Linked DNA regions of Homo sapiens: region 2 is linked to region 1. The links come from fine-mapping of genetic effects on gene expression. A gene starts in region 1. The other region holds a variant in brackets. All regions are shown on one strand. Distances are between the middles of the regions.

The links. PIP is the estimated chance that this variant, and not a neighbour inherited with it, causes the effect. A credible set is the group of variants that fine-mapping cannot tell apart.
Region 2: its variant is the best candidate, but not a certain one, in a credible set for the expression of PSMD2 in whole blood (INTERVAL, PIP 0.69).

The regions. Positions count from the first base shown.
Region 1 is chr3:184,296,947-184,302,317 of GRCh38, reverse strand. PSMD2 (proteasome 26S subunit ubiquitin receptor, non-ATPase 2) reads right to left here and starts at 3,077. Exons shown (of 21, transcript NM_002808.5): 1 at 2,917-3,077; 2 at 2,411-2,467; 3 at 1,874-2,038; 4 at 660-781; 5 at 247-471. The coding sequence starts at 3,051. RefSeq lists a silencer at 3,070-3,409.
Region 2 is chr3:184,318,860-184,324,230 of GRCh38, reverse strand. EIF4G1 (eukaryotic translation initiation factor 4 gamma 1) reads right to left here. Exons shown (of 33, transcript NM_198241.3): 7 at 4,430-4,542; 8 at 3,509-3,601; 9 at 3,238-3,304; 10 at 2,128-2,949; 11 at 1,781-1,869; 12 at 1,501-1,687; 13 at 1,277-1,410; 14 at 990-1,148; 15 at 638-823; 16 at 254-451; 17 at 1-30. Among named protein-coding and RNA genes, the nearest start is that of SNORD66, 4.2 kb to the left of the region's middle. The variant T/C (reference allele first, on the strand shown) is at 2,353.

The DNA.
Region 1 (5,371 bases):
CCCATGAATTCACTTACCCAAAATAAATAATAAATATCTACTATATACACCAGGCACTGTGCTAGATGTTAGAACTACTAAGAAGACACAAAGTCTCTGTCCTCAAGAAACTCACACACATCAAAAGATTAACTACAGCGTGATGCTATGCTTGAGCAAATGCTCTGGGAAAATAGAGGAGGCGCAATTGAGAGAGAGGTGCTGAGGAGGGCATGCCTGCCACCCTTCCCTACCATGTTCACTCACCTGGTGAGATAAAGGCAGACCTTTGCATATGCATTTTCATCAATGTCCTTCTCCAGCATGTCCACCTGCTCAATTTCCATAAGCAGGTCGCAAGCCTCATGCTCTGCATTGTGGGCCATGTTATAGGGGACGATTTCCTTCACCAGAGTGAGCAGAGGCTCCCGCTGGACCTTCTCTGCGTCATCCAGCTCCTGCCACTCCTTAGCCACTTCTCCTGCCAGATGCCTACAGATAGTCCCAGACGATTAAGAGAGCACAGCTTCAGGGGAAGCACTTCTCTGTGGGTCAAGGAATCCAGCGTCTGGGAAATTCAATACACTGATGCTCCAAGACAGATTGTACTCCACAAGAAAATTCTGAATTATCTCAGAGCCTCAGAGCCCCCTTCGGATTCCCAAGAAGAAAGATCTTACCTGACATACTCATGACCCCATGATGCCAATTCCTCCTGGGAGCCCACTAGCCGATACTTGAGGCACTCACGCTCCCCACTCATGGTCATGGCCAAAACGGAGATGATGTCAGCAGCAAAACGCTATAAAGAAAAGAGTTCTTTGAAGTCAAACCCAGCAGTCCAGCATAAAGGGAGCATGCATTGTGGAATCAAGATCATTGTCTCCGAAACTGAACTAACTACATACCAATCTCTGTACTAGAAATTTAACATGTTATGTAAGCTAAACCTCACAAAAACCAAGGTTGGTGTTGTTGCTATCTCCTTTTTTTTTTTTTTTTGAGACTCAGTTTCGCTCTTGCTGCCCAGGCTGGAGTGCAATGGTGTGCTCTCGGTTCACTGCAACCTCTGCCTCCGGGGTTCAAGTGATTCTCCTGCCTCAGCTTCCTAAGTAGCTGGGATTACAGGCGCCCACCACCACACCCAGCTAATTTTTTTTTTTTTAATTTTTAGTAGAGACGGGGTTTCACCATGTTGGCCAGGATGGTCTAAAACTCCTGACCTCAGGTGATCCACCCCTCGGCCTCCCAAAGTGCTAGGGTTACAGGTGTGAGCCACCACACCCAGCCACTGTCTTCCTTTTAAACTAACACAGCTGAAGGGTGATAAATGAGGGATAAAGTGGAAAAAAATGGAGGCTCTCAATTTTACTTTAATTGCAATTATAAACTATTAAAAGGTCTTAAGCAGAAAAGACCTATAACCGAGAAAGATCACGATAGCTGCTACATGAGAGACAGACTGTGTAGGAACAAAGCACAAAAGCAACAACATCAGTTAAGAGGTGCTGCAATAACCCATGCAAAAACTGAACATTTCCAGGATTAGGGTTGTACCAGCAGGCAGAGAAGTGACTGAATGTGGAACATATTTTAGAGATAAATGAATGTATATGGGATAGAAGAAAAGAGAAAAATCAAGGTTAAACATACGTTAAAAGTAGACCATGCTAATGAAACCCCAAAGTCCAATACACATGACAGAAACAGTGTCTTCTGAGAAGCTGACCTTCCTTTCAGCTCTTCTGTAGATATTTTGACTGTGATGAACTCTGCTCAAATAGATCACGGCTTAGGTCTATCAGGCTTCCTGTGACTCACAATGAGTCCCCCCATGATCTGGGTAAAAAGGAATTCCTAAACTAGGCCTCCACCAGGTTTGAAACAGTTTTACCTTATTCTCCCCAGGGGCCATGTTCTCATAGATTTCCTTCAGTTTGCCATAGTGTGGACGCAGAAATTTGAGAGGCTTGGGCACTGAAGTCATGGAAGTTGTAGAAGAACGAATCTGCCTTCGCAATTCCTCCAGCGCTGGTCGATACAGGGATGTATCCTTCTCCTGATCAAGAGACGACAGGGCTCAGACAAAAAGGAGTCACACCCCTTCAAGTCATAATACAGAGATATTTAACTTAACAACTCCTCCAAGGAAATGCTGTGTCTTATTCATTCATCTGTGATTCCTCAACTCCCTGCACCCTGCCTGGCACAAAAACAAATGACCCAAGTTAAGAGGTAAGAACTCTGCTTCTCCCACAAGAGAAAGCTGCAAAACTGTACAAATACCCTTTGTAACTCTCCTGCCTCCCAACATCATCATAACACTGACCCTAAAATACAGTCCACCGTACATAGCAGTTGCCTCAAAAAAGAATAAAACAAGTGGGAAAGATCCAAACATGCACCGAATCATGTTAACATCGTGACTCACCCCTAGTCGTTCCACGAGCATCTCCAGTTCATCTTGAAGCTGTTTATCCTCTTCAGACTGGAGGGTTGGGAGAAGCAGCTCATGAAGAGAAGGAATCCCAAAGACGTCCTCCTCCCACTTACCCGGGGCAGGTGAAGAATAAGCCTGCCTCCTTAGGAGGGGCCAGGTGGACAAGGAAACCGAGTGGGAATGGGAAGCCCTGGTGAGAAATCAGCCTGGGTTCTGAATCAGGCTCTACTTGAATGCCACTCTAGGAAACGGAGGTGACAATGACCTGCCCGAGTCCACTTCACGCGGCGGTGGTGAGGGTTGGTGGGGACGGCGGAGGTGACAGCGCGGAACGGAGAATGAGGAGCAGAGAGGCAAGGTGCCGGGAGTCCCGAGGGTCGCCCCAACCGCCCTCTCCCTGGCGCGGTGGGGTAGTTGGGTGTCGGGCCTGAGGCCTGCGGAGCCGCCGTGACTCAGCCCCGCAGCCTCCTTCGCCGACTCTCGGGGTCGCGCCTCACCAGCTCCTGTTCTTTGTCCTTGTCCCCGGCATCCCGCCGCTCCTTGCCGCTCGGCTTCTCGTCCGTGCCGCCGGGGGCCGCCGCTGGAGACTGCTGGGGCTGCACCGGCGCCTTGTCCCGGCCTCCCTCCTCCATCTCCGCCGCCACTGCCGGCCCGCTGCGCGCGCACCCGCTCGCACCGCCCTTTTTCCCAGACCAACTCGCGCGCGTCGGTCGCGGCGCCCCTCCTCCTCCAGAGCCCGCCTGCGACCGGAAACGCCGGGGCGAGCCGGGGCGCTCGGCGACCCACCCACCCCCTCGGCCTGAGAGCCCCGCCCTCGGACCCCGCCCTCGGAGGCAGGTGGAGACTACAATTCCCAGCCTCCCCCGCGCCATAGTCGCCCCTGGCCCCCGACCTCTTCGGAGTTTCCTGAAACCCGCGGGACTTGGCCGTGTGGGGTTTGGGTTCGCTCACTGCTGTAGATGGGCGGTCTGCGAGCGGAGTTACCGAGTTTTACTCCGCCACAGGTTTTTCTCATAACGGTGTAAATAGAACCCACAGTGACACTCCAGTTGACTGCGTGGCGCGACAGACAAACTAGATTTCTTGACGTCCAGGACGCTTGATTGCCGCCTGTATAAAGTCTGTGTAACTGTGTCTAGCCCCACACCACTGTGGAATATTAACCTCATTTGGTTTTGTTGTTGTTGTTGCTTTTGAGAAGGAGGCTCGCTCTCTCGCCCAGGCTGGAGTGCAGTGGCGCGATCTCGGCTCACTGCAAACTCCGCCTACCAGGTTCAAGTGATTCTCGTGCCTCAACCTCCCGAGTAGCTGGGATTACAGGCGCCCGCCACCACGCCCAGCTAATTTTTGTATTTTTTAGTAGAGACGGGGGTTTCACTATGTTGGCCAGGCTGGTCTCGAACTCCTGACCTCAAGTGATCTGCCCGCCTCAGCCTCCCAAAGAGCTGTAATTACAGGTGTGAACCACCGCGCCCGGCCTATTAACCTCATTTGATATTCCTCCCCAGTTGAAAGAGAGTACTCTGCTATTCCCGTGGCTACCATTTTAAATACTTTGGGGAGCCAGGTGGAGTTGACATCGATCAATAAAGCCCTGTGCTCCCCGCCAAGTTCTGGAGCTAAAAGCAGAACAAGACAAGGTCTTCGTCCTCTATCTTCTCGTCTTTCCCTGTGAAGCCTTAGAGGCGTGTGACTGACGCGCTTATGTCAGGACTGCTTTCGAGTGATTCCATGCACTTCTTACAATCTTTTGAGATTGGTAGGGTTAGGTCCATTTTACAGAGAAGATCATATCAAGTAGTAAAATGAGGATTTATTTTTTATTTTATTTATTTGTTTTGAGATAGTGTTTCTCTCCTGTTGCCCAGGCTGGAGTGCAATGGCGCAATCTCGGCTCACCACAACCTTCGCCTCCCGGGTGCAAGTGATTCTCCTGCCTCAGCCTCCCGAGTAGCTGGATAAAGAGGAGTTTTAGAAAAAAATCCCTCTACAGATGACTGAAGAAAGCATGAAAATGTATGGACACCGTGAAGCCAGAGATAGAATAGGCAGAACAGTTATGGACTGTTGAATTTTTGTGCCACCACGCCCGGCTAATTTTTGTATTTTTAGTAGAGACGGGGTTTCTCCATGTTGGTCAGGCTGGTCTCCAACTCCCGACCTCAGGTGATCCGCCCGCCTCGGCCTCCCAAAGTTCTGGGATTACAAGCGTGAGCCACCGCGCCCGGCGGAATCAAAATTTAAAGCTCAGTCTTTCAGTCTTCAAAGCCCTTGACTGTTTTAGGCAAACCCCAGAGTTTCTTCTTCAGCTGTGTGTGTGTGTGTGTGCGTGTAAGGTGAGAAAAAAGGAAGTATCTCTTCTCCCTTTCACCTAGTGGGAACACTCAGGAGTCTTCTAGCAATCTTATTTTATGGGTTCTGACACATTGAAGAAAAAGACACCTAGTACAACATATCACAGAGTGAATGTTGGGTAAATGTTTGTGTAGATACGGAAGTAAAGGTCTGAATCCATTTTAAATACCTGTTGCTCTTTTCCACTCAGTGCTTGGATTCTAGGCATGACCTTCCATTGCCATTGCCAATGACTCCCCCAGCGCTGGTCTGCAGACAAAAATTCAACAGTCCATAACTGTTCTGCCTATTCTATCTCTGGCTTCACGGTGTCCATACATTTTCATGCTTTCTTCAGTCATCTGTAGAGGGATTTTTTTCTAAAACTCCTCTTTATCCATGACTTCCTTCTTCTTTTTTTTTTTTTTTTCCAGACGGAGTCTCGCTCTGTCGTCCAGGCTGGAGTGCAGTGGCATGATCTCAGCTTGCTGCAACCTCTGCCTCCCGGGTTCAGGTGATTTTCCTGCTTCAGCCTCCCAAGTAACTGGGACTACAGGCATGCACCACCACACCCCGCTAATGTTTGTATTTTTAGTCGAGACGGGGATTCACCATGTT
Region 2 (5,371 bases), 22 kb before region 1:
TGTTGGCTTTTCCGTAGTGGGCACTTTCAGCTGTAGGTCAGAGAGAATGTCACACTCAAGACTAGTCCTGGGCAGGGAAGGCCCTCCAAGAGCCTTTAACTACCTGACCCAGGAAGATCTCTGGCCCCAGCTCTGCCTCCTTCCAGCTGGAAGAGGCACAAGTTGGAGGGGAACCAAGAAGCTGGACTCAAGGAGTCTTGGGAATAGGAATGGGCAACCAGACCATTAGATTTAGAACCCACTGGAAACTAACCGCCATGAGGCAGCGGCACATGTTGGCATAGGCCACAGAGAAGTTGGGCTCTGAAATGGCCTTCTCAAAAATGAGGTCAATGACCCCTTTGAGGCGTTCCTCGGTGTCGATGGCCAGCTGCGTCACTTGCTTCATCAGCTGCTGGAACATCTGGGGTGTCAGTTTATTCAGGATGGAGCGCACCCTGCGGAATAGGTCCTGGAGGGAGAAGAGACAAGAGTTCCAGTGAGGGTCTCAGAACAGGCTGTTGGGAGGGACAGGAGAGGGTGGTGGGGACTTAGGCATGACAGATGCTAGTGATAAGGACAAAAAGAAGCAAAGAGGGCACAGATGGCAGACCTGGAGAAGAAATGGAGAGAGACCAAAAGCAGGACTTGCCAGTACCTGGGTTTTGCTGCCATCAGCATCTTCTTCCCCTCGATCCTTATCAGCCGCCGTCCGCTTGCTGCTGGGTTTCCAGGCTTTCTCTGCTTTGTTCAGTTTTATATCTTCGGTCATTAACACTGTGGCAATGATCTTGCGTGGTTCTTTTCGGGGTCCCTGCTGAGAGCGCCGGGGTCCCAGGCCAGCCTGCTAAGCAAGGGATGAAGACAAGAGGGGACATGGAACTAGTCAGCACAATATGTGACACCACTACTACACGCCTCCAGGGCAAACCCCTCCCCGCGGGCACTGAGACACGGAATCATCCACTCCCACTCCTTGCCCACCTGCCACTTTACCCAGCCCCACTCACCGGCCCACGGGGCAGCTCCCCACCTGGCCCACCCCTTGGGGGCCCACGGGTGCTAAGGGTTGTCCGGCCAAGGTTGGCAAAGGATGGAGTGAAGTCTGGGCCACAATTTATGCCTTGTAGTCTAGTGGGATCCAGTGGCCGCAGTGGTGTTTTATTGGCCTGCAAAGAGGACAGGAAAAGGTCTCAGAAGCAGGCTAGAGCGGTTGACTACTCTTTCAGGACCTCAGGCTCCTCCCCAATCCATCCAGCACAAACTTATCGTCCCCTCCCCAACTGAAGCCACTAACCTTGTCCAGCACCACGTCACTGATATGTGGCAATCCCTCTGGCTTCTGCATACTGGCAAAGATGAACTGAAAACCAAGCAGGAACTCACGGTCGTAACGTTTTTTCTCCTCTAGGTTTAGAGGCTTCCACTGATCTGCAAGGAAAACAGAATGAAGCAATCATACTGCCTCCTCTGGCCCTAATAAGAAAACTCAAGCCATTCTCAACCCTTTCTTCAGCATACCTGACTTATATTCATACTTCTGTTCCCCGGGCTGGATGTTCTCAGCATTGTGAATTTTGTCTTCCTTTGAGTCCCAGGTCTCATCTGCTTCCTCAGGACGTGGGGGCACACCACTGCCCTCAGACTCTGGGCCTGGATTGCTGCCTGCAGGAGGCTGATTTTCCACCTCTGGTACTGCCGGGTTCGCCTAGAACAACAGAACATCCAGTTTTGGTTGCAGAATGACCACTGCTCCATACCTCAACTTGGCCCTCTCCCCTCCCATTTTCTGCTCCCTTACCTCCTTGAAGGCATCCAGAAGGTCTCCAACAGCCTCCTTCTTATTTAGCTCCTTAATTTTCCGTCTCCTCTTTGGCACAGATACTGCCACTAATTAAAAATAAATAAATAAAAGCATGGATCTTTGCCAATAATTTAAGGAGTACCCTTAATCCCTGGGAAATAGAAAGCAGCCAAAGAACAGTATTTCCCCTTTGCATCACCCTTTTTAGGCTTAAAAGTCCTTAATCTAGTTCTTAGATTCCATTGCAGGGACCCAGAAACATGTCAAAAATGGGCGGTCATCAAGGAGGGCAAGGAACGATATCCCCTAGCCCGCCCTACCTCTACCGTCCAACCACACCTTACCTTGAGTGGCTGCTGCTGCCTCCAAATTCTGAGACAAGTTGGCTGGAATAGGGGTACTCTCTGGGGGGAGCAGTTCCTCTCCTCCTTTCTCACTCTCAGCTTCTCCTGCTTCTCCTGCTTCTCCTTCTTCCTCTTCTTCTTCTTCTTCCATTTCCTCCTCCTGAGCTGGGGAAGTAGCTGAAGGAGCCGTAGCTGGAGTAGCAGAGGGGATGGTGGGGGGCGCCA[T/C]TGATGCTGTCACCTCCTTGGCCTGCTCCTCTGGCTCACTGACTGGGCTTAAGTCCACAGCTGGTGGCGAGGGGGCTCCGTTGAGCAGTTCCTCAGGTTGGGCAGTTGGAGCAATGGGCACAGGGGATTCGGAGGGGCAAGCTGGGGGAGGAGCAAGCTCTGGGCTTGACTCCACCTCTGGTTCCAGATCTTCAGATGGGACCATGCCATTAGGCTCATGAATTTCCACTGTGTGAGATGCCAAAGGGGTGGGAGCCTGGAGAGGACTGGAAGAAAACTCAGATTCTGGAACCGGTTTGCTAAGTGTCACTTCTACTTCCAGTATGGGTTCGGCGAGAGGAGTGGGTTCTGGAGAGAGGCGATATGGCTCCCCAGTTTCACGGGAGATGGGGGTTGATTCTTCTACAGACATTTGTATAGTTGTCATAGTGTCCCCAGGAATAGAGAGGACTGCGAGATTAGGCTCAGACCCCGGTTCCAAGACTGGGGATGGTGATGGGGTCGGAGAAGGCGACGAAGGCTGGGATTCTGAAGGGCTATGCTCTGGGCCAGGCAGCCCTGGCCGGTCAGCAATGATTGCTCCCTGTGACCGGTCATCTGCACCATAGGAAGGAAGAATGAGCAACTAAAGGCAAGTGCTTAACTGCTGTTGTTCCTCCCCATCCTCCAGCCCAGGCATTCCCAACTTAATAACCCCGCATCATCTTCTCCCCACCTAAGCTATACTTCCACTTTCATCCAAAACCCAATTCACCCTCAAAATCCCACAACCTGAAATCTAAGTCATCATTCTCTGGTACCCAGTTCAAGTCACTCCACCACCTCAGCATTTAACTGTTAACATTCCCTTTCCCCATAAAAGCTCCGTCCCACCGGCTTACTTACCTGGCCGGACAATGACAGCAACCTGGGGCGTCTCCCCATTAGCTTGAGGCTCCAGACCGCCTCCCGTCTGCAGGACACAAAGGGTTACCAAGTTTGCACTGAAGAGTCCCACAACCCTTCTTTACTAGAGCCATTTCTACTTTAGCTCTGCCTAGAAATCCAGGAAAGCAGGGAAATAAATCCCTTAGTTGAAAGAAAAGATCCAGGGACTTGGGAGTCCAGGGCAGAACAGACATCCCAGCCAGGGTATCACTCGAAAAGCAGACAGTACCTGGGGAGGGGTGGGTGTGGAGGCAGTGCGGGCCCCAGACATGATCTCCTCTGTGATATCCTTTCCTCCTTGGTTTGGATCTCGAATTCGGATCTGGGGAAAGAAAGCTATAAGATGAGTGGGAAGCAGGAAGAGCCCACCTCTCCACCCTGCCCCAATCTTAAGACTCTGGGCCAACTCCCCACCCCCCAGCGGGAAGCAGGTAGGTAGGTGCCAGAAACCCCTTGAGTTCCACTTTCAGCCCATCTGGCTGCTCTCGTAGTCCCTGCCCCAGCTCCCACCCTTAAGAGACCCTTGATCTCACAGAGCAGCCCTGTACATCACAATGCCCCTCCCTCCCTCATCCCTACCCCACCAGCAGTCCCCAAGTCAGTGGCTGCACACCCTGGGGCCCAGGACCCCCATCTAGAACCCAATCGGCTCACTTGTGGCTAGTGTGCCTGATCTCTGGGGGCAGGGCCCAGATCCAGTAGGTGGAGCCAGGGTGACTCAGCGGCTTCCCCAGCTCTGGCACCCTATTCTGGGCACCACGCCCAGGGCTTGAGGACTGAGCAGAGGCGGAGGCCTTGAGAGCTTCCAGGACTGGGGGGGCAGGGGGGAATGGGGGCTGGGGCCACAGAAAACAAACCATTTCCAAGGCAAGCCACTAGAAACCCAAAACCAAGCATAGTTCTTCCAACCCCCCAGCACCCAGGTCTCGCAGGAACTTCCTCGCTAGGCACTTCAGTCTTCCCATGACCTGCTTCTATGCTGAAATCTTAGCATCTTACAAAGAACCTGAGCCCTCCACAGACACCATTCTCTGCCCACTCTCAGCTCCTTCCTCCTCAAGTCACTGCTCTTTCCGGCACAATGTCCCAGCAGCACCTGACCTTGATTCTCCCCTTCCCAGATGTCCCGGAGCCCCTCACTGCTACTCACCGTCTTACGCTCCCTCTTGGGAGCAATCTGGGGTGGCTGGTTCATCAAAACTGGGGTGGGGGCCACGCCAGTGGGAAACTGCTGCACCCCTTGGGCTGGATAGTAGGCGCCAGCTTGGGGGAGGGGGGACGGAGAAGAATGGTGGTAGCGTCAGGGCCCAACCATATACTAATGCCTGCCTGACACCTCCCACCCCAAAACCTCTCACCACCCACAGCCGGCCCCTTGCCTTGCCCTGCCCTGCCCTCCTCCCCCAGGGAATTAGGTGTCTGTCAAAGCTGGGGAACCAGTCTGAACTGCGTTTACAAGAATTCCTAACACACACACACACACAAACACACACACACACACACACACACACACACACACACACACCCCTCGTAGGCAGGCACTCTTTCCTACCACACACCAGTGACCAGGAGGACTTATGTCTGTCCTTCCACCGTACAAGTTACTCTCGTGTGTGTACCCCACCCGCTATCAACATGTACACACATACTCTGAACCTGAAACAGAACCAGGTCTTTGGCTGGTAATGAGAGAAAGAGATCTGCCAACCCTGTTCCATTTAACTTGAGTCTAGTTCCTGTCTCCAGCCCTTTACAAAGGGGCAAAGAAACAAAGTAACATTATGAACTAGGCTCAAGATGAAGAAAAATTAATTCCTTAAAGCAAACTATCTCCAAAGTGGGTGAGTTCTTTTTTCCCCTTAATTTTTTTTTTTTTTTGAGATGGAGTCTCACTCTATTGCCCAGGCTGGAATACAGTGGCACAATCTTGGTTCACTGCAATCTCCACATCCCGGGTTCAAGCGATCCTCCTGCCTCAGCCTCCCGAATAGCTGGGATTACAAGAGTGCATCACCAGGCCTAATTTTTGTATTTTTAGTTGAGACAGGGCCAGGCGTGGTGGCTCACGCCTATAATCTCAGCACTTTGGGAG